5 separate regions of the Homo sapiens genome follow, and regions 2, 3, 4 and 5 are each linked to region 1. Evidence: fine-mapped expression QTL. A gene starts in region 1. Each other region holds a variant in brackets. All regions are shown on one strand. Distances are between the middles of the regions.

Region 1 (5,105 bases):
AAAAGGTCTAAACTCTAGAACGTAAATTTTAATAGAAAAAGTGATTATACATTATTTTCCTATGTATTTTCGCTTTTCAAGTGTTTAGTGGCAGTTATCAAAAAACTTCATAATGTGCCAATTTTTGAAAAAATTTTCCCACCTGCTGTAAATTCCCTTCTATTCCTAGGATACAAAAGCCTGCCTTAAAATTATTTTTAGAATCTTTTATTAAAAAGTATATATACATATGATATTGTATACTGCAACTTTAGCATCAGCCACAGGACTTTTTGAATATTGATCATGAGAACAAATTATAAGTAACATGGCTTTGATGCCCTTGTTTAGACAGGCTTTATTTTTCTTTTAAATTGAACTTTATCAAGACCTGGCCATGATCCTACTGGAAAAACTACTGCAGACGATGTACATCAAATAAGTCAGTCTGGTTCTTAATATTACATTTTTAATCTTAATTGGTGGAACACTATTCAAAGAAAGGACTAGCTGCTTTTTCTGTGCTACTTCCACCTTTCACAGGGAACAGAGATTTTAAGTGACCTCAGATCTTAGCATTTCTGAGCTTTCCTGGAGTTCTTACTACCATTCTGACTTAGTAAGTGGTGACCTGTATTCTGAAACTGAGGGGCTGACATATCCAATCTTCCTTGGGAATGTGATAAAGCAGCTCCGCTTCAAGTAAGTAAAACTAATAAACACTTCCAGTGTTTCATTAAGAATAAAATAGAAATTGATTTAATTTGTGAAGTCTTAATACGTTTGACTTTCAATAAAGATGTGAAGATAAAAGTGTTCAGAGAAAAGCTAAATTAAAAACAGGAAACAGGAGAAAAAAATGTCTAGAGAACAGAAGACACAAGTTTCTTTAAATACTTTAAGAATAATTGCCAAGAAAGAAATTGACTAAATGCAGAACTGAAAGAAAATGAATTTTAAAACTTCAAGAATTTCAGTTAAAATAAGATAGAATTTTCTGATTTTGTTCCCTAGACTTAGACCACCGTACTTCAGTTTTGAGGCAGAGGTTTCATTCACAGAAGACTTTGAGCTCTGGAATCATTGAAAAACGAACCATATTCATTAAATTATTGGTAGTCCCCCAACTGCTGTGCATTAATAGGAATTAATTCTGCCTCATTTCAGTTCCTCAACATACTGAGCTAGAATAATTGTATCTTGTTATTTGTTCATCATTGCTTCAGATCTTAGACATAGCTTTTCCTTTCTTGGAAAAGAAGATTATAACAATAGAAAAAAAAGATTATTTCCTATGTTTTTTATTTTTCCTGCAATAGGAAAAAGATTCAGATTGAAGATTTGTGATTTTCGGTTATGCTATTTCAATTATTAAACTCACTTTTAAGCAATGTAATCACAATTGTCTTTATGCTAACAGGAAAAGAATACAATTCTTACATTTAAATTAAAAAAAGAAAATCTCAAAACCTGAAAGGTATTAGAGAACAAAGCATCTTCCTAATTTGGACGTTTTTCAAACTCTACATCTTCTTAATTTATTGAGAAAAAGACACTTAGGATCTTCCTGTAATTAATTTGCCCATTGCTGGGAAATACTTGTTACCTGTCATAATGTAGTGCTTCAAAATAACGTTATCAGAACTGCAGTCGAAAGGTACTCAATACCAGTTAAGTAACATTTGAAGTCCAGGAAAGAGAAGTCAAGAATTCCATGATTCCATGTTTCCGTATTCATCAGGAACATAATTAAGAGTTTATTCATTTGAGACTTACAAGCAAACAAAAAAAGTTTATGTAGTTTGCAAGGAAGTTAATATTCTGATTTTATTCTTCGAAATGTACATATAAATAGTTCTCAAGTTTGATTTTATGATAAAAGTGTAGTTTGGGAAAAGGTCATTCTAACTTTAAAAAGGTCGCGAAAACAATAGAGGCTGAAGCATTGTTAGCGTAATTGGGGGAGGAGGGAGCAACGGCAAGAATTAAGAGCAGAACACAGGTCTAGAAACAGTACCTGTCCCAAAGTGGGTCTGCCCGGCGCTGTCGCTTTAAGCAGCGCTCCTGGAAACCTCATCTACAAATCCTGGGGCGGGTCAGGGGTGGCAAGACTCCTAAGGAGGGAAACGACAGAAATGATTCTGTTCTTGCGAGCCCCAAAGCAAGAGTACTTTTCTGATGGGTAAAGTGGTATTTCTTTCCAGGCTGCAAAGCTCTCCACCTTTTTCCTTTGGTCTCAGTCAGCCCCAGCCATGGGGGCAAATCAAGTTGGGGTCAACTCGGCTGCCAGAGACCTAAGTTGCCACAAGGGTCACCGACGACCTAAGCAGCAAGTTTCCTTCGTCCAGCCTCCTGCCCCCACGCACATTGCCTCCACAGCAAACTCCACCTGACTCAGCTTGTTTAACTCCAATCCTGCAGCCCTCCCGGCCTCAGCAGGGTCAGGGGGCGCGGGTCTGCGCCAAGACGGTTAGGAGGCCCAAGTCCTGGGACTGGACGGTTACTGCGCTCCCTTGGGCGCAGCCGCTGGCGGCGTGGGCGCGGCTGGGTCACGCCTCCGGCACCACCGCGCGCCAGCCCGCCCGTGGCATGGGAACCTGCGATTCAGTCGTCCCCGGGGACCTCCCAGCGCACACCGCTAGCCTGGGGCTTTCACCTCGATCCGCCCGGCCTGGGCGGCTCGTGTCCTCCCACACCGCCACCCGTGCCCGCTTCCCGGGGTGCGCCCGGAGCCTGGCCGCTCTCCCTGCAGGTGACCAGTACTCGTTTGGAGTTCAAGATTCCCGCCGCTCCACTTGAACTCCACCCTCCCCTCTTATTATTATTATTATTTTAACTTCCCTCCGGTTAAGCTAAATTGATCTTAATCTTTCATCTCGGACGTCCCTCTAAGGGGAGTGAGCGAAGATTCCGATTGCAAGTCGCCGCTGTCGCTTGTGCCCGTCAGCCCCTCGCCCAAAGGAGACGCCCCCGGGCGGGGCGGGGCGGAGCGGGGCGGGGCGGAAGGGCCCGGGTCTGCTGCGGACGGGGCGGGGCGGAGCCTCCTCCTGCACGGGGGAGCCCCCGGGCTCGCCCCAGCTCAGACACTCCTAGCCTTGGGGCAGCTGCCGGGCGAGTCAGCGGAGTAGCGGCCAGCGGGCGATGGAGACAGAGAGACACCCGACGAGAGGAGGCGGGGTGGGGGAGGCGGGGAGAGTGCGGGGGCGGAGGCTGGCAGGGGGCGCTGGAAGCTGGAGCGGTCCGTGCGCTCCCCGCGCCCGAGGGTGCAGGAGGCTCTGAAGCGGCTGCTGCACCGCGGGGCCCAGGCGGCGGCTGGGGGGCTGGGGGGCGCTGCCGCCGCCGCCGCCGGGGGCGTCGCTGGCCTCGGCCCCTTTGTTCTCGCGCGCTCCCCCTCGCCGCCCACTCCCCTGCTGTCGCGCGGCGGCGGCGGTGGCGGCGGCGGCTCCTCCCGCCCGAGGCAGTCGGGCTCGGCGCCGGGGGCGGGAGGGGGCGGGGGGAGCACGCCAGCCGCCGAGAGTGGGGGGCGATGGCGAAGCTCCGGGTGGCTTACGAGTACACGGAAGCCGAGGACAAGAGCATCCGGCTCGGCTTGTTTCTCATCATCTCCGGCGTCGTGTCGCTCTTCATCTTCGGCTTCTGCTGGCTGAGTCCCGCGCTGCAGGATCTGCAAGCCACGGAGGCCAATTGCACGGTGCTGTCGGTGCAGCAGATCGGCGAGGTGTTCGAGTGCACCTTCACCTGTGGCGCCGACTGCAGGGGCACCTCGCAGTACCCCTGCGTCCAGGTCTACGTGAACAACTCTGAGTCCAACTCTAGGGCGCTGCTGCACAGCGACGAGCACCAGCTCCTGACCAACCCCAAGGTAAGAACGCCCCGCGCACCCAGGGGCTCCCCGCGAGGGAGGTTTGGAGGCAGCGTCGGTGTTAGACTCCGCGCGGGGAGGGTTCGGCGTGTGCTCGCATTGCTAGGAGGAGACCAGGTGGCGCAGGCTGTGCTCAAACCAGGAATGACTACATCAGGGAGCCCCAGGGCTCCGGTCTTTTCAGGTGGGTTTACGCGCGGCGACCAGTGGTGCCCAGAGGCTTACTTTAAAACCTGTCTTGCCTGGTCTCAGATTTTGAGGCCTCGACCCAGTCCGGGTCCTGCGCCTACCGGACTGGGTTTGGAGAAGTGCAAGGAGCCAAGAAAGTTAACTTTTCCTCCATTTAAAGCCAGTGGTTAGCGGGGATCCACCTACTCCAGCTCACGGTCAAGGTCCGAGCTTCAGCTGGTCTCATCTAGAACTCAGATGGAATGACCTTCCTTGAAAGGTCGAGGGGACTCTCGAAAGTTGTGAGAGAGTTCCTCACCTTTTCGCTCTACATAGGCATTTTCAACTTGGGGTTCAAAGATAAGCTTTTGTGGCTTGACAAACGACCCGGAATCAAATGTGGAATATTGCGGGTCCATTTTGGGAAGTACAGAGGGCTCCTAGTTTTCATGAAATAGATTCTCAAAAGAGTCTACAGGGAGCCTAGTTACCCTTTGTGTTTAGGGACAGTCAGGAGTCGTCTGGAGAACAGTAAAACTTGCTGAAAATAGAAAACCTTCAGTGAAATGTACCTAATATGACTTCTCTGACAACTTCTATTGGTCTCGAAAGCAAGCAAGAAGAAAAAGAAAAAGAAAAAAAAAAAAGATAAAACCTGGTTAGGACTCCCGGGATGGAGAGCAGAGAGAGGAAGTCTCAGAAAACTGTTCCCAATGGAGAAAAATAACTTATAAAAAGCAGTGTCCTTAGCCTGTGAACTAATTGAGCTTTGTAGTGCACCTGGTTCTGGTTCCGTTTCTACTTCCCTTGATCTTTTCTGCTCTCCTTGTTGCTTAACTATCAAAGGTATGTATCTTTTTAAAAGTTACTGACATTTTTCCTTTTTTTGAGGGATCAAGCAGAAAAACAGTCCAAAAGGGAATGCATCTTGTGTTCACAGGAAAACTTTCTGTTAACTCTAACAAGATATATTTATATTAATCCAAAAGAAAAAAATTCTACATTAATATTATAATAGTATTTAAAACAGCTTACCGTCACTCTGCAATAAAACTTGTGGTCTTACCTCCTGAACAGTAAATTCTTGAATTTGAGA
Region 2 (5,105 bases), 23 kb before region 1:
CCTACAGCCACCTACACCTATGTTATTCTTGTTTTCCACCCTATTACCATAATTGACCCATGCGTTCTACTTACAACACATTTTCACACTTTGTTGGGTCATTTTCATCAACATAGAAATACATTGTTACTTCTCTCATCTTAGAAGAAAATCTTCCTTTGATCCAACCTCCTCCGTAAGTTACTTTCCCATTTCTTTATTTCCCTTTGAAGCGAAACTTTTCAAAGAGTCATCTCCATTTCTCCGACTTGGTCTTCTCCCATTCTCTGGTAAGCCCATTTCAGTCAGGATTTTGTCCCTGCCACTTCACTAAAGCTGCTTTTATCAAGGTCACCAAATGACCTTCATGTTATTAAATTCAGTGGTCACTTGGAGGAACTCTTGCTCCTTGATACACATTCTTGTACTTGAATTTGAGAGCACCATTTTTACCTCATCTTCACTGGTTGGTCTTTTTCAGTTTCCTTTGCTGGTACCTCCTCCTTTTCTTCTTGACCTCAGTGTCATTCCTCTTCTCTGCATTTACATCCTTGATGATCTTTTTCTAGTCTTATTGTTTTAAATACCATATATATTGAGGAATCCCAAACATATGTTTCCATTCCACACTTCTGAGTTTGAGATTTCTACATTCAATTGCCAATTAAATATTTCTTGAATGATCACCCCCCAACTTATTCTGTCTACAGCCTTTCCAATCTCAGTTAGTGGTAACTCTGTACTTCCAGAAACTTGGCATTATTCTTAACTCCTCTTTCTTTTATACCCCATAATCAGGCTTTTCCCAAAATATATACAGAATCTAACCAAAGCTCACTACTTTTAACTGCTACCACCCTTGTTTGAATCATTCTCTCTTGCCTGAATACTCCATTAGCCAGTCACTGGGGGTCCCTGATTGTCCTTATACCCCTTCCCGTACAATCTCTTCATATAACAGCCAAGACAATCCTTTTTTAATACATTACTCCTCTGCTCAACACCCAGTAAATGTTTGTGGTTTCATTATGATTAAAAACCCCAAATCTTTTTTTTTTTTTTTTTTTTTTTGAGACAGAGTATTGCTCTTGTCGCCCAGGCTGGAGTGCAGTGATGCAATCTCGGGTCATTACAACCTCCACCTCCCAGGTCCAAGCGATTCTCCTGAGTAGCTGGGATTGCAGGCATGTGCCACCATGCCCAGCTAATTTTTGTATTTTTAGTAGAGACGGGATTTCACCATGTTGGCCAGGCTGGTCTCTTAACTCCTCACTTTTCAAGTGGTCTGCCCACCTTGGCCTTCCAGAGTATTGGAATTATAGGTGTGAGCCACCGCGCTTGACCAGAAACCCCAAATCTTCACAGGCCTGCAAGGTCTTACATGATTATTGTTTGTCCCCTAACCCCACCTCAACAGCTTTTCCCTTTGTTCACTGTATTCCAGCTTCACTGGCCACCTTGTTATATCTCAGGCATGTCAGTCATGTCCCTGCCTTAGTTGCTCTAGGAGTTCCCTCAGACTAGAAGAGTCTTCTGCCAGATAATTAATATGACTATGTCCCTTATAGCCTTCAAATCTTCAGATCTGACCACCTTAATGAAACCTAACTGACCACCCTATTTAATAATTATGCATCCAGTCTCCCCTCCCAGTTCCCCTCTAACATGGGCCATTGTTTATTTATTTATTCTGTTAATTGATTTTGTCTGTCCCCCTCCAATCCACCATCCTCAACCAGAAAGTAAGTTTCATGTTGTCAGTGATCTTGTTTTGCTCACTGATGTGTCGTAAGCTCCTAGAACAGTGCCAGGCATATAATAGGCACTCAGTAAATATTTGATGAATTTAAACTTTTGCAAATAGTTACTCAGTTTTCTTCTTGCCACACAAATAAATGGGAAATTTATTTAAAATTTATTTAAAATTTAATTTATATTGGGAGCATGGTATTGAAGAATTTAAAGCATCTTGAGTTGAAATCAAGTAAAAGTAGAAAATTTTTAATCATGTTTTGTATATTGTGATATGTTGTGTTATTTATACTGTATTGCAAGAATACTGAGGGAAGGAGTCCTATCATATTTTACAGACACACACACAAACACACACA[G/A]TCTTCATTTGCTTCTGTATAAGTCAGTAAACCCAAGTAAGGGAATTAGAAGTAAAGATGGTCATTTTACAGTTGGAGTCTTTGTTTTTCCTGAAATAAAATTAGAAATCTCTTTTTCTGGATTTCAAAATGTTTTCTTTTCCTCCTTATTCAGAAATCTCTACCCCAAATTTGCGTCACCCTGGGCATCTTCACCTTGTCGACCTCAAGACATAGGTAGGAGAATCTATTTGTGTTTAGACCTTTTAAAAAGAAATTTACAATTGAGAATCAGTTAATAAGGCTTTTTTCATTTTATTATCCAGACTTCCATGTTCCATCTGAGTACTTAACGAACATTCACATTAGGGATAAGGTGAGTGTAGTTTATTATTCTACTCAGTCAGCATGAATTTATCTATTTTTCACATGTTTTTCAGTTCAGGCAGCATACTATTTTTGAAATAATTAGTAATGGTCTCAGGGATATGCTTTCATATGTCCATGTTAACTTGTTAAATGGTAAATGTTAGGACTGGTAAAAAATAAAAATTCTTACATTTAACAACAGGTTACAACCATAACCGCAGTTGATGAGAATAAACTAGATTGGAACATTTGATAAATATCCTTCTGATAATCTTATTTTATGACCTTACCAGTAAAAAGATTTTCGTTACAAGTATTACAGATACAGTGTTTTTAATGAGATGGTCTGTATCTTTAAAAACTATTTATGACCTTTGACTTTTCTCTGTATTTTTTCATTTCCATTTTTTTAAATCACCTAAAATTCTAATTCTAAAGTAGTTATTAACAACAGATTACAGCTTAATCTCTCTTTTTTCAATCTAAGAAAGAAAATGGTGGCACTTTTTGCTTTAGAAGAACTGAGAGTTTGTTTCTATTACCAAAAAATATTCACAATGGTACCTAAATTTTAGCCTTGGGAAACTACAATTTAGTGAAAAAATATATTTTTGTTATATATTTGTGTATAAATATCTATGTGTATGTGTATATATACAACAGCATTCTGAGTGTGCCTTACAGTTCTGTGGTCAAGTGGATGTTGATGTGGACAGGCAAGTAAAGGGATACCTTTCTCAATGTCTTCTAATACTTGAGTAGATAAAAGGCAAGAAATACAAGATGGAGAGGTCTCCTATTTTCTATTTGCGGATTGTGTGATTTGCTCCCACCACCACTGTAGAGCTCTTTCGCTCCAATTACCAAAGTGTTCCAGAACCTTTTCTTATTACCAATTTGAGAAATACTAATTTAGGAGAATTTGTCACATTGGGGCTGCTGCCTGAATAGGGATAACATGAATGGAGAGAAAAATTACATTCAGAGAATGTGTAATAACCAAATAAGTATTTCGATATAGGATCAAATAACGAGATAAAAATGTTGTTTTGGGACACTTTTAAGGTTTATTTAAATGTGAAAATTTGAGACTATTGAACCTATGTTTTACAGTTTGGTAAGCAGTTATGTTTCTACCTTGGGGAGAGAAATGTAAAGCAATCATCTTTCAGACATCTATTTAAACAAACTGAAAAGCCATTTCTTTATGATTTTTGTATTCATCATCTGTGATTTGCTGAAAGCATACAACTGACTTGTGAATCATTCACTGTCAGATATAGATTCAGTTTAACATTTTTTATAAGCCGTCTATATATTTGGCACTCTACAAGGTGCTTTCATATACCTTCACTCATTTTATTTACTTTCTTAGTAACCCTCATAGGTGTCATTGTCCACATTTGACAAGTAAAGCTAAGAGATTTTAAATAACTAGGACACAGTCATATTAATGAGTAATAAAACCAGGACTTGAATACAAGTCCTAGATCTCTGAGCACAATGCTATTGTTAGGTTCTTTTCCCCATTGGGTATTAAATCCTTTTAGTGGATCTTGCTTGGAAGTCTTTATTGAGCTTTTCTTCCAGTCAGCATATCAATTAGATGTATCAGAAATAATTGTTTAAATGACTTCAGTCATTTAAATGAGGAAATTCCCTTTTAGAATCTTAACTACCTATCTGTGTAATCATGTAATAACAGTTATCTACTACAAAGTGGGGAGTTTCTGTTTATCTCTCCATTTTTTCTTTAGTAGTAGCAACTATATATTAGGATTTGCAGATTTGTTTTATATTTCAGAATAAGTTATTTTTCTTTTTCAGCTGGCTGCAATAAAACTTGGCCGATATGGTGAAGACCTTCTCTTCTATCTCTATTACATGAATGGAGGAGACGTATTACAACTTTTAGCTGCAGTGGAGCTGTATGTTCAAAGTATTTTAATCACTTTTGTATTATAGTGGATCTTGACTATGCTGAAAACATCTTTAAGTGATGATGGCTATCTTTAAATGGAACTATTTCTCCATCAAGAAATTTATTTTTACATTATTAAAGTGAATTTAATTTAGATTAAAACCGTATCTTAACCATGGCTTCATAATCTATATACCTAAAAAGAATTTCAAACTTAATGCTGAAGCTGGGTGCAGTGGCTCACACTTGTAATCCCAGCACTTTGGTGAGGTGGACAGATCACTTGAGGCCAGAAGTTAGGGACAGCCTGGGCAACACAGCAAACCACATTTCTACAAAAAATAAAGGAAAATATTAGCTAGGTGTGGTGGCACACATCTATATAGTCCTAGCTACTTGGGAGGCTACAGCAGGAGGATCGCTTGAGCCCAGGAGTTTGAGGTGTCAGTGAGCTATGATTGTGCCATTGCACTCTAGTGTGGCTGACAGTGCAAGACCCTGTCTCTAAAAATAACTAATAAGTGCCAAATTTGTAAGAAGACAGAATTGACATAACTCATGGATTTGGTGAATCTAATTTTTGTAAATATGTGAATTATATGATATTCATGACTATGTTTTTTATTCCTTGTGGAACCATATGTATAAATAATTCGATACTGAATTTAATCATTTCATAAACATTATTACTTATAAGCAAGGCAGTGTGCATATTTGTTGTACGTTTTGAAGTGCTGATTAAAGTC
Region 3 (5,105 bases), 110 kb before region 1:
TTTGTGATGAAGAAATTGGAGTAGACATGGTAATTTGTAACCTGTATTGAAAAAACAAAACTGACACCATAAGCATTTTCCAGTGTCATATATTTATCCAAAACAGGATTCTTAATGGCCAGAGCATAACTGATTTAATGATTGTGTATGATTGAACATTTTATTTTTTTTTTACTTTTATAAATAGCACTGTGATGAACATTCTTGTACCTGAATTGTTTGTACATTTATTTCTTTAGAAGAAATTTCTATAAGTACAATCATTTCAAAGTATATGAATTTTGGAGGTAAGCAGGTCCAGTGCTTAGCCAATTGCTGTGTCCTTAGTGAGATTACTTTTCAAGCCTTAGTATTCTCTCTGTAAGAACAGGTATAATATACTTAACTCAGAGGTTAGAAGGAGTAAATGACAACATATGTATAGCATTTAGCACATCCGATAGTATACAGGATACTCTCAGTGAGTCTTTCCCCAACTACCCCCTTTTTTTTTTTTTTTTTTCTTTTTGAGACGGAGTCTCGCTCTTTCGCCCAGGCTGGAGGGCAGTGGCACCATCTCGGCTCACTGCAAGCTCCGCCTTCCGGGTTCACGCCATTCTCCTGCCTCAGCCTCCCAAGTTGCTGGGACTACAGGTGCCTGCCACTGTGCCCGGCTATTTTTTTGTATTTTTTTTTTTAAGTAGAGATGGGGTTTCACCGTGTTAGCCAGGATGCTCTCGATCTCCTGACCTCGTGAGCCACCTGCCTCGGCCTCCCAAAGTGCTGGGATTACAGGTGTGAGCCACCGCGCCCGGCCCCAACTACCCTTTTCTTAAGTAGACTCTTCTTCCCTAGCATCTATTGTAATTAGCTATTACGCTAAAAAAATTTTGTCTTTCATTCCACCACTAGATCATGAGTAGGGACAAGTTCAGTCTAGTTCATTAATGTATATTGAAAACTCGTACAGGCCTAACAAATGTAAATATGTTGGATGTATGAAAAGTTATCTTCCAAAGCTTTTAATATTCAGTTGCTTTTTTTCTTACAGCAAAGCTGTGCCAGTTTACATTCTCTGCAGCTCTGTGTAAATTGTGTCCTTTTTAATTTACTGTCACTGATACTGAGTATGTTGTGTTAACAAAAAGTTCTAAATTTCAAAGTTATAAACTGATAATTTTAAAAACTTGTATTTTTTGGCTTTTTCTCTGAAGAAGCAATATTTTATATTCACTTCTATTTTCACGTTTTCTGTTTATGTTTTTCATTCTTACTAATAAGAATAAAGACAAAATAAGAGTAATATGTTATAGTCCTGTCCGTGGTCCCCTCCCAAGCATTATTCCATACTTCCTGGGAAGAAAAAGTAAATAGCATCACACAATTATGAGACAGGGTTAATATACAGAAGTACCATATCAAAACTGATCTCCAAGGGGTTTAAACTGGATAAACTTACGGTGAAAAAGTTTAAAAGAATTTTTGCCTAATTTAATTTACTGTATTAACACTGAAAATGTAGGTTAAGATGTTATGTTAAAATCAGATTGTATTTTCAGTATTAAGCTTATGTTTTCTGGAGGGCTTCAAAATCACTTTCATATCTGTGGATGTATTTGAAAATAGTATTTTGCTTGTGGGAAGTAGGCAAAGACAAGTAATATTTAGGTATTGTATTAGATATTTTATGTTACTCATTCATTAATTTAACAAATATTTATTTAACTCCTACCGTGTGCCCCAAGTGCTATTCCAAAAGAATATAGCAGTGTACAAAATAAAATCTATATAGATACATATAATCTGACAGATGGTGGTAAGGATAAGGAGGAAAAGAAACTAAGGGAAAGTATGGAGTGTGTATGAGGTGCAGATTTAAATAGGCTGGTCAGGGAAGTCCTTTCCCACTGATTTCCCCTCAAGGCGTGAGCCTGTGGTGAGGGAGCAATCCTGTGCTTGTTCAGGAGAAAGGGCTTTCAGGAAGGGACAACAACAAAGAACAAAAAACCTGAGAGAGACGGATTCTTGATGTCTTA[T/A]GATTAAAAAATTGCAAAGCAGTATGTGTGGCTAGAGTGTAGTGGGAAAGGAAGAGAATGGTAGATGGGTACAGAAAAGGGCAAATGAGGAAAGACTTTGCTAGGCTACCATAAGGACATTTTTACTTACAGTAAAATATACCTTGTATATACTCTTCACAGTTGTTACACGAGGTTAGCTGAATTTTTCCCATTTTACAGTTGAGTAAATAAGGTAGGTTCTAGCATATAACTGGTAATTAACTTCTTCAAGGTCACATAAGCTAGCCAGTAAGATCCAGAGTCAGGTCTTTGACTTCAAAACCTCCTGAATTTTTGTTTGTACTGTTCTTGTTCAAGCATACTTACAGAGCCTTTCACTTTTACAGTGAAATTCAGACCGGGCTTAGTTTTTAGTGTTGATCTAGGGTGAGTTTTCATGCAGGGCTTATTTTTTTTTAATATCCATAGGAACTAATACCATTCTTATTTTTAAATCAACTTTGTCAAGGAAGTTTACATATAATACAAGGTACCCGTTTAAGTGTCCTTTTTTAAATTAGTTTTCACAAATTTATACACCCGTTTAACCATCACCATCATTCAGATACAGAATATTCCCATCAACCCTCAAGTTCACTGATTCCATGGAGACCCCAATCATGGCCCTGGCAACCACAGATCTGCTTTCTGTCAGTATATTTGAGATTTTTTCTAGAGATTCGAACAAACGGGTTTGTAGGTACTGCATTGTTTTGTGCCTTCTTTTGCTCAACATAATTTCATGACTTATTTATGTTGCATGTATCAGTTGTTCACTTCTGTTGGATATTGTTTTGTTGGCTAGTACTCTTCTAACTGGTGCCTGAAACGTTTGTTGAATGAATGCATATAATAAATATCCTCTTCCCCCAGTTTTGCCGCTTTCCTTTATCATGAGACTGCTAAAACCTCTTCTAGATTTTGTATGTTGCTAGACTTAAATTTGTGTATAGAGTATTTGAAGAGATAATAGTGAAAAATGTGCATGATTTGGAGCTCAGTATTTGTTAAAAAGACTGTTTTCTCTATTTATTTATCTTAGTACCCTTCTCTAAAATGAGCTGACTGTATATGTGAAGCTTTATTTCTGGACTCTCAATTCTGTTTCATTGATTGGTATGCCTATCCTTATGCCAGTATCCCTTGATTACGATCTGCAATTTTGAAAACAGGAATTTTTGAGAATCCTCCAACTCTGTTCTTTTTCGAGATTGTTTTATTAGTATCTGCTCCATGAATTTCCATATGAATTTTAGAACTAGCTTGCTAATTTCTCCAAAGAAACCAGGTGGAATTTTGATAGAATTGTGTTGAAACTGAACATGGGATGTCTTTCTATTTATATAGTTATTTAATTTCTTTTTTTTTAATCAATTGAGTACCAAAATAGACTTTAATTTCTTTTAAGAATGTTTTGTAGTTTTTATGGTATGTTTTGTATTACTTTTGTTAAACTTACACCTAAGTGTTTTATTCTCTTGGATGCTTCAGAAATGGAGTTATTTTCTTAATTTCATTTTTGGATTGTTCATTGTTATTGTATAGAAATGCAATTAATTTTGGCGTATTGATTTTGTACCCTGCAACCTTGTTGCACTTGTTTACTTAATTATTATAAAACATTACTATTAATAAAATCTTAAGTATTAAACTGCTATGTAAACTGTTGTATATTTTCAAGTCTCCTGTTGACTTATCTTGTATCTAGTTGTTGTATTCATTATTGACATGGAGTATTAAAAGTCTCCCAACCACTGTTGTTGAATTGGCTATTTTCTCTCTTCAGGTGTCAGTTTTTGCTTCATTCATTTCGGTGCTCTTTTGTTAGGTTTATGTGTTTATAATAATCTTTTTAGTGGCTTCTTTAGGATTTTCTTATCTATGATATCATGTAATCTGCAATTAGAGGTAGTTTCACTTCTTCTTTTCCAATCCAGATGCATTCTATTTTTTTTTTTTTTGCCTAATTGTTCTGGCTAGAATCTTTAGTACAGTATGAAATAGAAATGGCAATTCTGTTTAGTGGACAACCTTGTATTATCTCTGATCATATAAGGAAAGCATTCAGACTTTCACCTTTGAGTATATACCTGTGTTTTTGTTTTTTTTTCCATGGATACCTTTTATCAGTTTGAGGATGTTCCTTTCTATTTCTAGTATGTTGAGTGCTTTTATTATGAAGGGCTGTTAGATTTTTTCAGATGCTTTTTTTGGTGCATCTTTTGAGATGATCATGTGGTTGTTCTAATATGTTGTATTACATTATTTTGTTTTTATGATGTTGAACAGTTCTTGAATTTTTGGGATAAATCCAACTGGTCATGTTGTATAATCCCTATTTTGCTGTATTTGTTTTCTGGTATTTTGTTGTGGATCTTTGTGCCTATTTTCTTTCTTTCTTTTTTTTTTTTTTTTTTTTTTTTTTTGAGACGGAGTCTTGTTCTGTTGCCCAGGCTGGAGTGCAGTGGCATGATCTCGGCTCACTGCAACCTCCACCTCCTAGGTTCACGCCATTCTCCTGCCTCGGCCTCCTGAGTAGCTGGGACTACAGGCGCCTGCCACCATGCCCAGCTAATTTTTTTGTATTTTTTAGTAGAGACGGGGTTTCACCATGTTAGCCAGGATGGTCTCAATCTCCTGACCTCGTTGTCCTCCTGCCTCAGCCTCCCAAAGTGCTGGGATTACAGGCGTGAGCTACCACGCCTGGCCAGTTTTTGTGCCTATTTTCATAAGATATATCAGTCTGTAGTTTTCATTTCTTGAGATTTCTTTGATGTTGTTAACTGGATAATAATGGTCTTGTAAAATGAATTAGGAAATGTTCCAGGTTCCAAAACTCTTCTCTGTTTTAGAAGAGTTTGTGAAGAATTGGTATCAGTTTTTCTTAAAATTGGTACAATTCACCAGTGAAGCTGCCTGGGCCTGAGATTTTTTTTTTTTTTTTATGGGAAGTTTTAAAATTACTAATGCAATCTCTTCACTTGTTACAGGTTTATTCAGATTGTCTGTTTCATCCTAAGTCAATTTTGATAGTCTGTGACTTTGTAAGAATTTGTCCCTTCCCTTTAG
Region 4 (5,105 bases), 85 kb before region 1:
AGATTCATGTAAAAGAAAAAAATATGTCAGTTGTGGGAGGGGTAAACTTTTTTGTCCACTTCATTTTTTATTCACTGTAAATTTCTCCCTTGTGTGTGATGTCTGGCAGACAGTCTTAATTGAAGAAAGTAGAAGTGGGTAGGAAGAATGTTTCATATTTAATAATTTCTGTTGCAAATAAAGTATGCCAGTCTAGCCCGCGAAAATGGTTACGAGGAAGACTAGAGTATAGAACAATTACTTTTTGTTTTTTGTTTTCTGTGTATCATATTGAATATTTTTGCTGCTGTTGATATATTTACATGTTAGTAATTTTGATGGCTTTTGGATAATTCCACTCTAGAGGGAGACGTGGTGGGCGGTCCTTCCTGTGACACGACCCTTGAGTGACAGTTCTATTTGATTGCCTCCGGTACTGTGAGGAAAGGACACGACTCTATGGTGAGGACTGATGGACATACATTATCTGAGAAAAGAAACTACCAGGTAAGACCAGTCTTTCTTCTTTTTTCTCTATTGGTCTTATAGCTACATTGAAACTGTTCAAATGTGTTATATGTAATTGGAACCAGCAAATTGGTTACACCTCAATTTGAAAATTTGGGTTTATAATTTTAAATTAAGTACTGGATTTGATAGTTGAAATAGTTGGGAACACTTTTCAAAATAAAGCATATTCATAATGTATATTTTTTAGTGTCAAATCAGGTTTTCTGAGATATTTGTCAAAACTTAGATTATTTGATATACAAGTTATGACTTCATGACTGAATTCAAAATGGTAAAAACAAAAGTGTTGATTGCTTTTACGTATATTATTCCTGGAAGACTAAACCCGAAGTCTTGTGCTATATTTTGGATAACAAAGTATATATCACAGAAATGTAGACAAAATTGAGTAGAGTATAGAAGAAATAGAAATGAGAAACCCAGGGTGCTTAGAGACCCAAATTCTATTGAATTTGTTATTAGTTTGCTGTCCTTAAATGCTAGATTCTTGTTTTCTCATTTAATAAGGTGGTTAATAATATTCATTCCTTATTCAGTGTGTAGGAAGGCTGGAAGAATAGTGGAAATGTAACATTGCTATTTCTGAGCTTTGAAAAGAAGGTGAATTTTAAAGATTGTGCTATTAAACAGTGATTTAAAGAAAACCAACATATTTGAATTTAGTTTTTTAAAGGAAATATCCTTTATTCATTTGATAGTGATCTGTTATCACATTTATTTAGTTATCCAGAATACAGAATACTTTAAAGTTTGAGTACAAATAAACTTTTAGGCTTCCTGCACAGATATGTGTCCAACCTCCCCACCTCCCACACTTCCTTTCACTCATCAGTTCATTCCCTCTAGGTTGTGAAGGCAGCTAGTATGATAGCAGCAGCTTTGGTTAACTAACTGTTTATCTGCTAACCATTTATTTTAGCCCAGTTAATCTTTTCTTCCCTCAAATTGGAAAAGTTAGCAGTGGAGCAAATTGTAAATTAGTCTTTTTGGTGTATGGTATAACAAAGAGGCTTTGATTATAAGATCTGGGTTCTGGTTTAGGCACTGTTCCTAATTAAAAATAATGTCATATTTAACCTTTCTAGAATTTCTTCTAACTTGGTATCTAAAGTTTCTTGCCAGATCTTTATGATTTTAATAAGCCAGAGAAAACTGAGGGTATGCTGAATCAGTTTTCTCTGTAACCTTTCTTCTGAGTTGTCCTCATAGACTTGACCAACATAGCCTTTGCTAATGATCTGTACTCAGGTGTAGCTCCTGCTTCCCACCCACTTCCAATTACCTTGACTCATAAGATTTTAATTGGTCACACTTCTTGGACTTCTGCATCTTTTGGTAGGTTCTGCCAAATTATTTTAAGAATTTTGTGATTCTGAATTATATGGCTTTTCAGTGCTCATAATCCAATTTGTAAAGTGTGAATGTAGAATTTTTATGTGATTACACACTATAGTTAATTTGTCTCATGGAACCACATTAATATAGAATTCCAAAATTTATACTTAAGAAAGAAAACAGAATTATGTTTTATACATGAAGAGATTTGCTTATTCTTGCTCTTTCTACACTAAAAGTACTCCATTGTTTCAGTCATATTATTTACAAATAATCCAGGTTTTTGAGCATACCTGGAAAATGCATTTTTGGTTATGGGTTTGCTGCCTCAAAATGTTTTCCCTTTTCTCTCTTCGTTTATTGATACATAATTGTACGTATTTATGGGGTACATGTGGTATTTTGTTACATGTATAGAATGTCTATATAAGAATGTATGGGAAATTCAAAGGAATGTTCATCACTAAA[G/A]TAACATTTATATTTGTACTGGTAGTCTAAGAATTTTTATATTCTTAATATATTCATCATAATACCAAACAGGAAATTTTGTTTCTATACATGTGCTTTTCAGAGTAGGGTTCAAAAATAAAATAATTTTACAATCCAGCTTTAAACAGCTGTTTCCAAGGTATACTTCAATATGCATTTAGCATCACTAAGTAAAAACAAAAGAGAAAAGGGACATAGAGGGATAAATTCTAATGTTCCATAGCAGAGTAGGGTGACTATAATTAACAAGAAGGTATTGTATATTTCAAAATAGCTAGAAGAGAGAACTTAAATCTTCCGAATTGATGAAAATGATTTTGGATTTTTAAAAATTCTACTTTGGAGGAAATTTATGTATTTTTCATAGATAAAGTAGAATTTCTTTGTGTCTATGTTTATAACCATTTTCATTTATCTTTGAGGGCTTTTGCTTTTGAGGGACACTTAATATTTTATATTTATTTGAACATTCTGATAATAGGCTAATATTGAAGAGTTTAACAAGAATTTTTGTAAAATTTATCCAGGTCTCATTTCCTTACAGACCTGATTAAAGCCTTAGGAATTAAGTTTAGGAAGGTGCATTCCCTTGGCTCTATACTAAAGATAGTGACTTTTAAATGGGCTTGGTTTGAAGTATTGATTTTTATGGTGGTATCTACTTTGTGTGTTTTCTTTCTTACTATAAGTTTAAGCCCAGTTAGGTATTTGGAGTTTGAATACAGTAGCTGAAGTTTATTTGCAGAGATAGACTGGCATATTAGTTCAGATAAAACAATTTATTATATGGCTCATGGTTCATTTTTGGATTGTCAAGCTTTTTCCAAGGAAATGCACCTTCAGTTTTTGTAACCATTTTCTTATCTTCCTCTAATTTAGACTAACTTACCCTAGCTATGAGCATGCACATGCACAAATGTAAACCATCTTAATTACCAATTTAACTAATCAATGGCTTTCCCTTTTTTTTTTTTTTTCTTTTTTTTTGAGACGGACTCTTGCTCTGTCACCCAGGCTGGAGTGCAGTGGTGCGCTCACTGCAACCTCCGCCTCCTGGGTTCAAGCGATTCTCCTGCCTCAGTCTCCTGAGTAGCTGGGATTACAGGCGTGCGCCACCACACCCAGCTAATTTTTGTATTTTTAGTAGAGATGGAGTTTCACCATGTTGGTCAGGCTGGCCTCGAACTCCTGACCTCGTGATCTGCCCGCCTTGGCCTCTGAAAGTGCTGGGATTACAGGCGTGAGCCACCGGTGCCCGATCCGGCTTTCCCTTTGTTACATAACATATTCAAGCTTCTAAACATTACCTTTAGACTTTCCAAATTCTGGCCTCCTTACATCCATTTACCTTTCCAATATATCTCCTGTTACTTTTTGTAGTAGATTTTCCCATTTAATAATACAACACTGCTTTTAATCTCCCTGCCATGCAGTTTCACACCCACAGGGGTTTACTTATATTGGTTATTTTCATGTAATGCCTCACCTTTGTTCACATGATTCAAGAATTAAGTATCAGTTTTTCCAGACGTCACCCTATGGTAGATTCAGTGTTCCTTTCCCTTTCTTTCATAGCCTTTACATACTTCTAGTTTAGTGTTTACCATAATACATTGTAGTTGTGTTTATTTGTCCTTGTCTTCCTATAGACTTGTGCAGTCCAATGCCGTAGGAACTAGTCACAAGTAGCTATTTAAATTTAAACTCATTTAAATTAAATAAATTTAAACTCATTTAAATTAAATAAATTTTAAAGTTCATTGGTCACATTAACCACATTTCAAATGCTCAGTGGCTACATGCTGCTAATGGCTACTGTATTGAACAGTGTAGATACAGAACATTTCTATCATTGCAGAAAATCGTATTAGATAATACTGCTGTATCTAATAAGCTTCTTGAAAACTGGGACCGTATCTGTTTATTTTGGTACTGCCAATACCTAGCTTGGTGCTTGGTATGTAGATAGGTGTTCAATGCATGTTGTTCCAATAAAATTAAATAAAACAGTGAAAGAAGGGAAAGGAAGAAATGGAAAGTATACTGGGTAACATACCAGTGTAAGTGGTATGGGAAGGTAGAGGTATTTGCAAGATATTTAGATGTTACTTTGAATGGAACTTTTCAGTATGAGGTCATTGGTCACATCATATGCTAGCTAATTCAATGCATTATCTACAAACTGGGTCTAATGCATCCTATTCCGTACGTTTCTGAAGAATGATTCATAATCTAAAACATTGTATTTTTGTGGAATATAGTATGTCAGAGAACTGTAAAAATGATTGTATTGCCATTTTCTTCCCCAACATTAAATATCTTACTTCCTTTTAATTAACTTTAAAAATCACAGATGCCTATTACCAAAACGTTGAAGAAAAATACGGAATATAAAATACAGTGTGAAAGTTTGCCTTGACAACTTTACTCTTAACAGTTTGGTGTGTACCTCTTCAGATCTTTACTAGTGACTATATAGTGTAGATGTGATTCATTGTCTTTGTCTCTAACAAATGTGTATTTTTCTGCATTGTACTTAATGGAGCTATTTCCGTTTCCCATTCTTTCCTCTGCCCTCTTCCCCAGAAGTAATCAATAGTTTTAATTTTGTGTTTCATTCTTTATATTTTTATAACTTATTACATATATGTTTTTCAGTATATTGAGGTACATCTTTTTTATGTATTGTGTGGCAATTTTTTGGAAAGTGGTGCCCCATATTTTATTATTTTGAGTAGGAAAAATCATAATTTCCAGCCCACTTAAGACCC
Region 5 (5,105 bases), 170 kb after region 1:
GGTGCTGGGCTGACAGGGAGGAGATGAGTACACTTGGCATTTCTCTTACTGCTGCAGTTCCCTGCTCCATATTTATTAGTGCCATTCAGTTAGGGCTATCAAAATGTTGCTGCAAACATTAATTTGCTAGATACCAGGCTCGCCAGAGAGAGAGAGATTTCACTTGTTAGGTTGATTTTCTGGACAGACTGAAGCAAAGAGAAATCAAGAGAACAAATTTAAGAGAAAAAATTAGGTGCTACAGGTGGCAATTGCTGTGCTGTGGTTTGAATGTTTGTGTCCCCTCCAAAAATTCATGTTGAAACTTAATCTTCAATGCAACAGTATTAAGAGGTGGAGGAGGTGATTAGGTCATGAGGGCTCTGCCCTCATGAACGGGACTGGTGCCTTGTGAAACAGTTGGAGGGAACTAGCTAGGTTCTTTTGCCCTTCCATCCCTCCCTCTATGTGAGGACACAGCCTTTGTCTGCTCTGGAGGACACAGTAACAAGGCACCATCTTGGAAGCAGAGACTAAGCTCTCAACAGACACTGAAGCTGCCAGTGCCTTGATTTTGGACTTCCAGCCTCTAGACTATGACAGATAAATTTCTATTATTTATTATCCAGTCTGTGGTATTTTGTTTTAGCAGCACAAATAGACAAAGACATGCTACTAGACCTGGAGGGAAGATTAGAAAATAAATCTTGAAGGATAGGTAGGACTTAGGTGGAGAAGAGAGATAAAGCCATTCCAAAATGGAAGAATGGCCAGAGGCAAGAATAAGCTTGTGTGCTCACTTTCCTGGCTAGAATGTGAAGGGAGTTATTGGGAACTTAGATTGAAGGTGATATGCCTGATGATGGAAAGCATGGAATTCCCATCAGGACTTTGCATTTCAGAAAGTAGGAAAAAAGCAAGAGGGAGAGAGAAGGCTGGAGAGTGAGGATGAGAGAGAGGCTACAGGGGAAGAAAGTGGAAAAGAAGTCAGGGAAGAGAAATGATGTTGGCAGAAGGGGAGGAACGTTATAAAACCCTCTGGGGGCGAGGCAGGCTGGTTGGTCCAGACAAATCCTCCACCCACCAAATTCCCCATGCTTATGTATTTTTCCAGACTCCCAGGCACAACCCCCTTATGGCTGCCATTTTATTGGCTGCTAGGTTTCCTAGTACCTGCAGTGCACCACAGTGGGCCCAGCACCCGGGCTTCTGTTGATGTAGTCCCTGACAGTTCTCACAAACTGGATCAGAGACTGGGTGGTTTCTGGGACTCCATGGTCTGGCCACACCGTATAGTGAAAGTGGCGGATGAGTCTGTGTGCATCAAGCTGTTCCTCCTGTAAGAGCAGAGAGCAGGATAAAAGAGGAACTGTCCAATGCAAACCTTCAAACTTGACAGCTGAGCCATGGAGCAACTCCTATGGGCTGAAACTACAAGAGAGGAACCAGCGAAAGTGGGGTTCACAGATCTCATTCATCTCCCCAAGCTCGGTTGTTAAGTCAAGCAAGCTAACATACACCGCATATCTTAAACTCCCGGATGGTCCACTCAGGCAGGACGGACTCTGAGAGCATCTGCAGGATGAGGTCCCCATAGTAGAGGGAATCCTGGTCCGCTGGCCAGTAATGATCACACTTTACCTAGAACAGGACAGACAGAAAAAACATGAGTCCGGAAAAGTGACTCCTTGGTGAACCTGGGGTTTCCCTCCTCTAAATGTCTTCCAAAGTTAGGAATCTGGGATCAGCTGCTAAAGCAATTTGACCATCTACTTTATATTAACCTTCTCATGGCCAGTGCTGAAGCTGAGGTGCTGCTCCAAGTGAAGGGGAGAGCCTGTACAAGGAGCACCCCTGACTCCAACCTTTGGGTTCACTCATTTTTTAGGCCCAGTAATATATGGCTTGAGTTTTTTTTTTTTTTTTTTTTTTTTTTCCCCTCAGCATTTCAGTTCCACTAGCAGGTAAACTGTGGTTCACAACGTATTGTTCTTTCTAAAGAAAGAAATATCTAGTTGGGTAGAGGAAGGCACTGTCTTCCTGGCCCTTCTTCGTTCATATTTTTATGTCACTGTCCTAACGTGGGCCGTGTGCCAAGAGATCTTTGAGAAGTTAGAACGTTTAGCTAAGCTCGCCTTTACATGTATACAGACAAGGGGAAGAGGAATGTAAGCATATGTTTACTGAGCGCAGATACTAGGCACTTTATACGTAATCTCTCTTTTAATCCTCAATCTTTTAATCCTCAAAATAACCATATAAAGTAGAGGATGGTAAGTGCATTACAAGGGGGTTTGGTTGATTTGTCTGGATTATTATTTTACTTTGTGTCTGCCAACACAGTCTACAACTCACTTCTCCTTTCCTGGGATGAGGGGCAGGTCCAGTGACTCTGGCAGGGTCTCTCCTCCAGCCAGACACTGAAGAATGGAGTAGCCAAGTGGCCAGGTAATTTTTGGTGTAATGGGCACTGCCACTAATCCCAGTCCTCAAATGGAAACAGCTTTGACTGGAACTTCAGACCCAGAATCAGAATCAGGCATCACTTGGGTTTACTATTAGAGTCTTTTGAACAGAGTGGTATAAGTCACTAACAATGCTCTCACATGATCCCTACGTTGTTTTGCGGGGTTTCACTTTGATGATGGGGCAGAATTCTATCCAGGTGGCAGAAAGCAAAGCTTTGATGCCAGGAAGGCTGTTTACTCACTCGGCCCTTCTCAACACACTGGGTCACCATGACGATGTTGTGAACGTTTTGTTCCCACACCATTTTCCAGAAGTCATCCTTGGTGCCAGGAAGCGGTCCCTGAGTGACAATGTATTCTCTTCTGAAGTTGTTGCCCTGCAATGAATTTACAATATGGAGAGTCAGAAACAATGGGCCTCTTCAGAACTATAAACAAAGAGTTCTTCAGATTAGATGATAGGGAGGTCTCTGCCAAGTCTCTGACTTCAGAAAAAGA[T/G]ACTAACACAAGTGTCAATGCTTGGGAGCAGGAAGGACAAAGGTCAGAACATTGAACTAGTGTTAAGAGCCACATTCCCTTTTACTTGCCTGGGTCTATTCTGAAAGCAAATGGGGGACTTAGGCAATGATCTAGAAAACACTTCACCCTCAATTATATGTGTGTGTTGGGGGGTATTTGTGTAGACTGTTGGAGGGACTGTAATCAGGCTCTTTCCCTATTTAATGTAGAAGAGTGTTAGTCATTTTGGATAATCAATGTCAGAATAATTTGGTAAGATATATCATCCACAGGAAGCATCACGGAAGAGAAACTGTTGACTGAGCGTCTACCATCTAATGTGTCGCAGGTCAGGACTTATTTAATCCAAACCACAGTCCAAGAGCGGGATATTTTCATCTACTCCTTCTGCACTCCGGCAATGACAGCAATTCCTTGTCAATTCTAATCGAAGCTCTTTCTCTTTGCCTTTCCTCAGGGTCTCCACATTATGTCACCTCTGCCATCGCCACCCCCGCCCACCCAAACACTGCTTCTCATCTGACCAATCCTTACTTATCCTCAGCATGGTGCCTGCTTGGCTGAGCCTTCTTTTATCTTTCTCTCTGCTGGGGGATATTCTCCAAGATGCCCCATGGCAATCTCTAGCCTCTCGCTACTGAGTGCCGTTCTCAGACCAGCAGCACTGAAATCACCAAGAGGCTTGTCAGAAATGCAGACTCGGCCGGGCGCAGTGGCTCACCCCTGTAATCCCAGCACTTTGGGAGGCCAAGGCGGGCGGATCATGAGGTCAGGAGATGGAGATCTTCCTGGCTAACACGGTGAAACCCCGTCTCTACTAAAAATACAAAAAAATATTAGCCAGGCGTGGTGGCAGGTGCCTGTAGTCTCAGCTACTCGGGCGGCTGAGGCAGGAGAATGGCGTGAACCCGGGAGGCGGAGCTTGCAGTGAGCAGAGATCGCGCCACTGCACTACAGCCTGGCAGACAGAGCAAGACCATCTCAAAAAAAAAAAAAAAAAAAAAAAAGAAAGAAATACAGATTCCCAGGCCCTGCCTCAGCCCTGATGGATCAGAATCTGCCTTTTCACAAGATCCTCAGATGGCGCAGACATCTTTCAATGTAGGAGAGGCACTGCTGTGGCAGGTTTCCCATGCCATTGCCTTTTCTTGCCTCAACTCTTCTGAGAGTTCCTTTAGGGTCAGGATTCCATCTTATCCCATGCCTGTAAACAGCTCAGTTAGCACTTAATTTCTAAGTGTTTATTGAGTGAATGGATGGTTGCTTGAGGTATGAGGTAAATATTATTATCATCAGTTTTTGGAAAAGAAAATGGAGGCCCAAAAAGGTGACATAATGTGCCCAAGGTCACAGAATCAACAAGGGGCAGAAGTGGGATTCAAACCTAGATTTGTTTGACCCGAAAGCTTTTTCCACTGCAGTATGCCATAGGAAGGTGGCAAGATGCTAACCAAAACCAGAGCCCAAAGATTTGATATAACCTTTGAGTTGTGTCTGTGGTTGTGAAGATTCCAAATAACATGGGATCAGCTTCTCTAGCTAGGCAGCTTTAGCAGGGGAGGTCCATCTTCCTTAGGAAGCTCTCATCTTGGTTAAGGACTGCAGAGAGTAGATGATCTATGAAAATGCATCTTGGGCTCATAATTTCATTTGACTATAGCCATTGTGAAAAATGTGGCGTAGCAGGAACTGAATTGGATACCCCATTTTTTTTATGGCATTCAGATGTGCTCTTCTGAAATCTACAGGTGTTTCCAGACCTAAGAATAACAGGAACATGGAGGAGTGGCATCTCCAGTGTAGCCACCCACCAAAGCCTCATCCTGAACACTATGGCCTAGTGGGTCACTTACAGGGATGTAGCTGGCATTGATGTAGTCAGAGCAAGGATCATCATCTACATTGGAGAGCTTCACTCGCGTGGCATCATCTGGAAGGAGAGATTTGCTGCTGAGTCTTGGAGTGACTTTTCTACAGTTTATGTGATGTGTGTGATGTGCCTTAGCTCTGATCCCCACAACAGCCACAGATGGGAAGTGATCTTATCTCCATTTTGCAGATGAGGCTCAGGCAGGATAACTAACTTGCCCCATGTTGCATAGGTGGCCTATAACCAGTCAGACACAGGAGACAACATGA

Evidence for each region. PIP is the estimated chance that this variant, and not a neighbour inherited with it, causes the effect.
Region 2: its variant is fine-mapped to the expression of KCNMB4 in monocytes (TOPMed, PIP above 0.99).
Region 3: its variant is fine-mapped to the expression of KCNMB4 in whole blood (INTERVAL, PIP above 0.99).
Region 4: its variant is fine-mapped to the expression of KCNMB4 in whole blood (TOPMed, PIP 0.99).
Region 5: its variant is fine-mapped to the expression of KCNMB4 in substantia nigra (GTEx, PIP 0.97). The same link has a PIP of 0.9 or more in putamen.

What each region holds. Positions count from the first base shown.
Region 1 is chr12:70,363,230-70,368,334 of GRCh38, forward strand. KCNMB4 (potassium calcium-activated channel subfamily M regulatory beta subunit 4) reads left to right here and starts at 3,061. Exons shown (of 3, transcript NM_014505.6): 1 at 3,061-3,841. The coding sequence starts at 3,506. RefSeq lists a silencer at 2,877-3,116.
Region 2 is chr12:70,339,863-70,344,967 of GRCh38, forward strand. CNOT2 (CCR4-NOT transcription complex subunit 2) reads left to right here. Exons shown (of 16, transcript NM_014515.7): 12 at 2,245-2,306; 13 at 2,396-2,445; 14 at 4,266-4,366. Among named protein-coding and RNA genes, the nearest start is that of KCNMB4, 24 kb to the right of the region's middle. The variant G/A (reference allele first, on the strand shown) is at 2,091.
Region 3 is chr12:70,256,871-70,261,975 of GRCh38, forward strand. The region is part of intron 1 of CNOT2 (CCR4-NOT transcription complex subunit 2); the gene reads left to right. Among named protein-coding and RNA genes, the nearest start is that of CNOT2, 16 kb to the left of the region's middle. RefSeq lists enhancers at 212-712, 1,696-2,229. The variant T/A (reference allele first, on the strand shown) is at 2,016.
Region 4 is chr12:70,277,789-70,282,893 of GRCh38, forward strand. CNOT2 (CCR4-NOT transcription complex subunit 2) reads left to right here. Exons shown (of 16, transcript NM_014515.7): 2 at 344-486. The coding sequence starts at 439. Among named protein-coding and RNA genes, the nearest start is that of CNOT2, 37 kb to the left of the region's middle. The variant G/A (reference allele first, on the strand shown) is at 2,314.
Region 5 is chr12:70,533,336-70,538,440 of GRCh38, forward strand. It overlaps PTPRB (protein tyrosine phosphatase receptor type B), which reads right to left. Exons shown (of 34, transcript NM_001109754.4): 28 at 4,820-4,896; 29 at 2,690-2,824; 30 at 1,498-1,620; 31 at 1,153-1,316. All of the region lies in intron 6 of PTPRB-AS1 (PTPRB antisense RNA 1), which reads left to right. Among named protein-coding and RNA genes, the nearest start is that of PTPRB-AS1, 68 kb to the left of the region's middle. The variant T/G (reference allele first, on the strand shown) is at 2,946.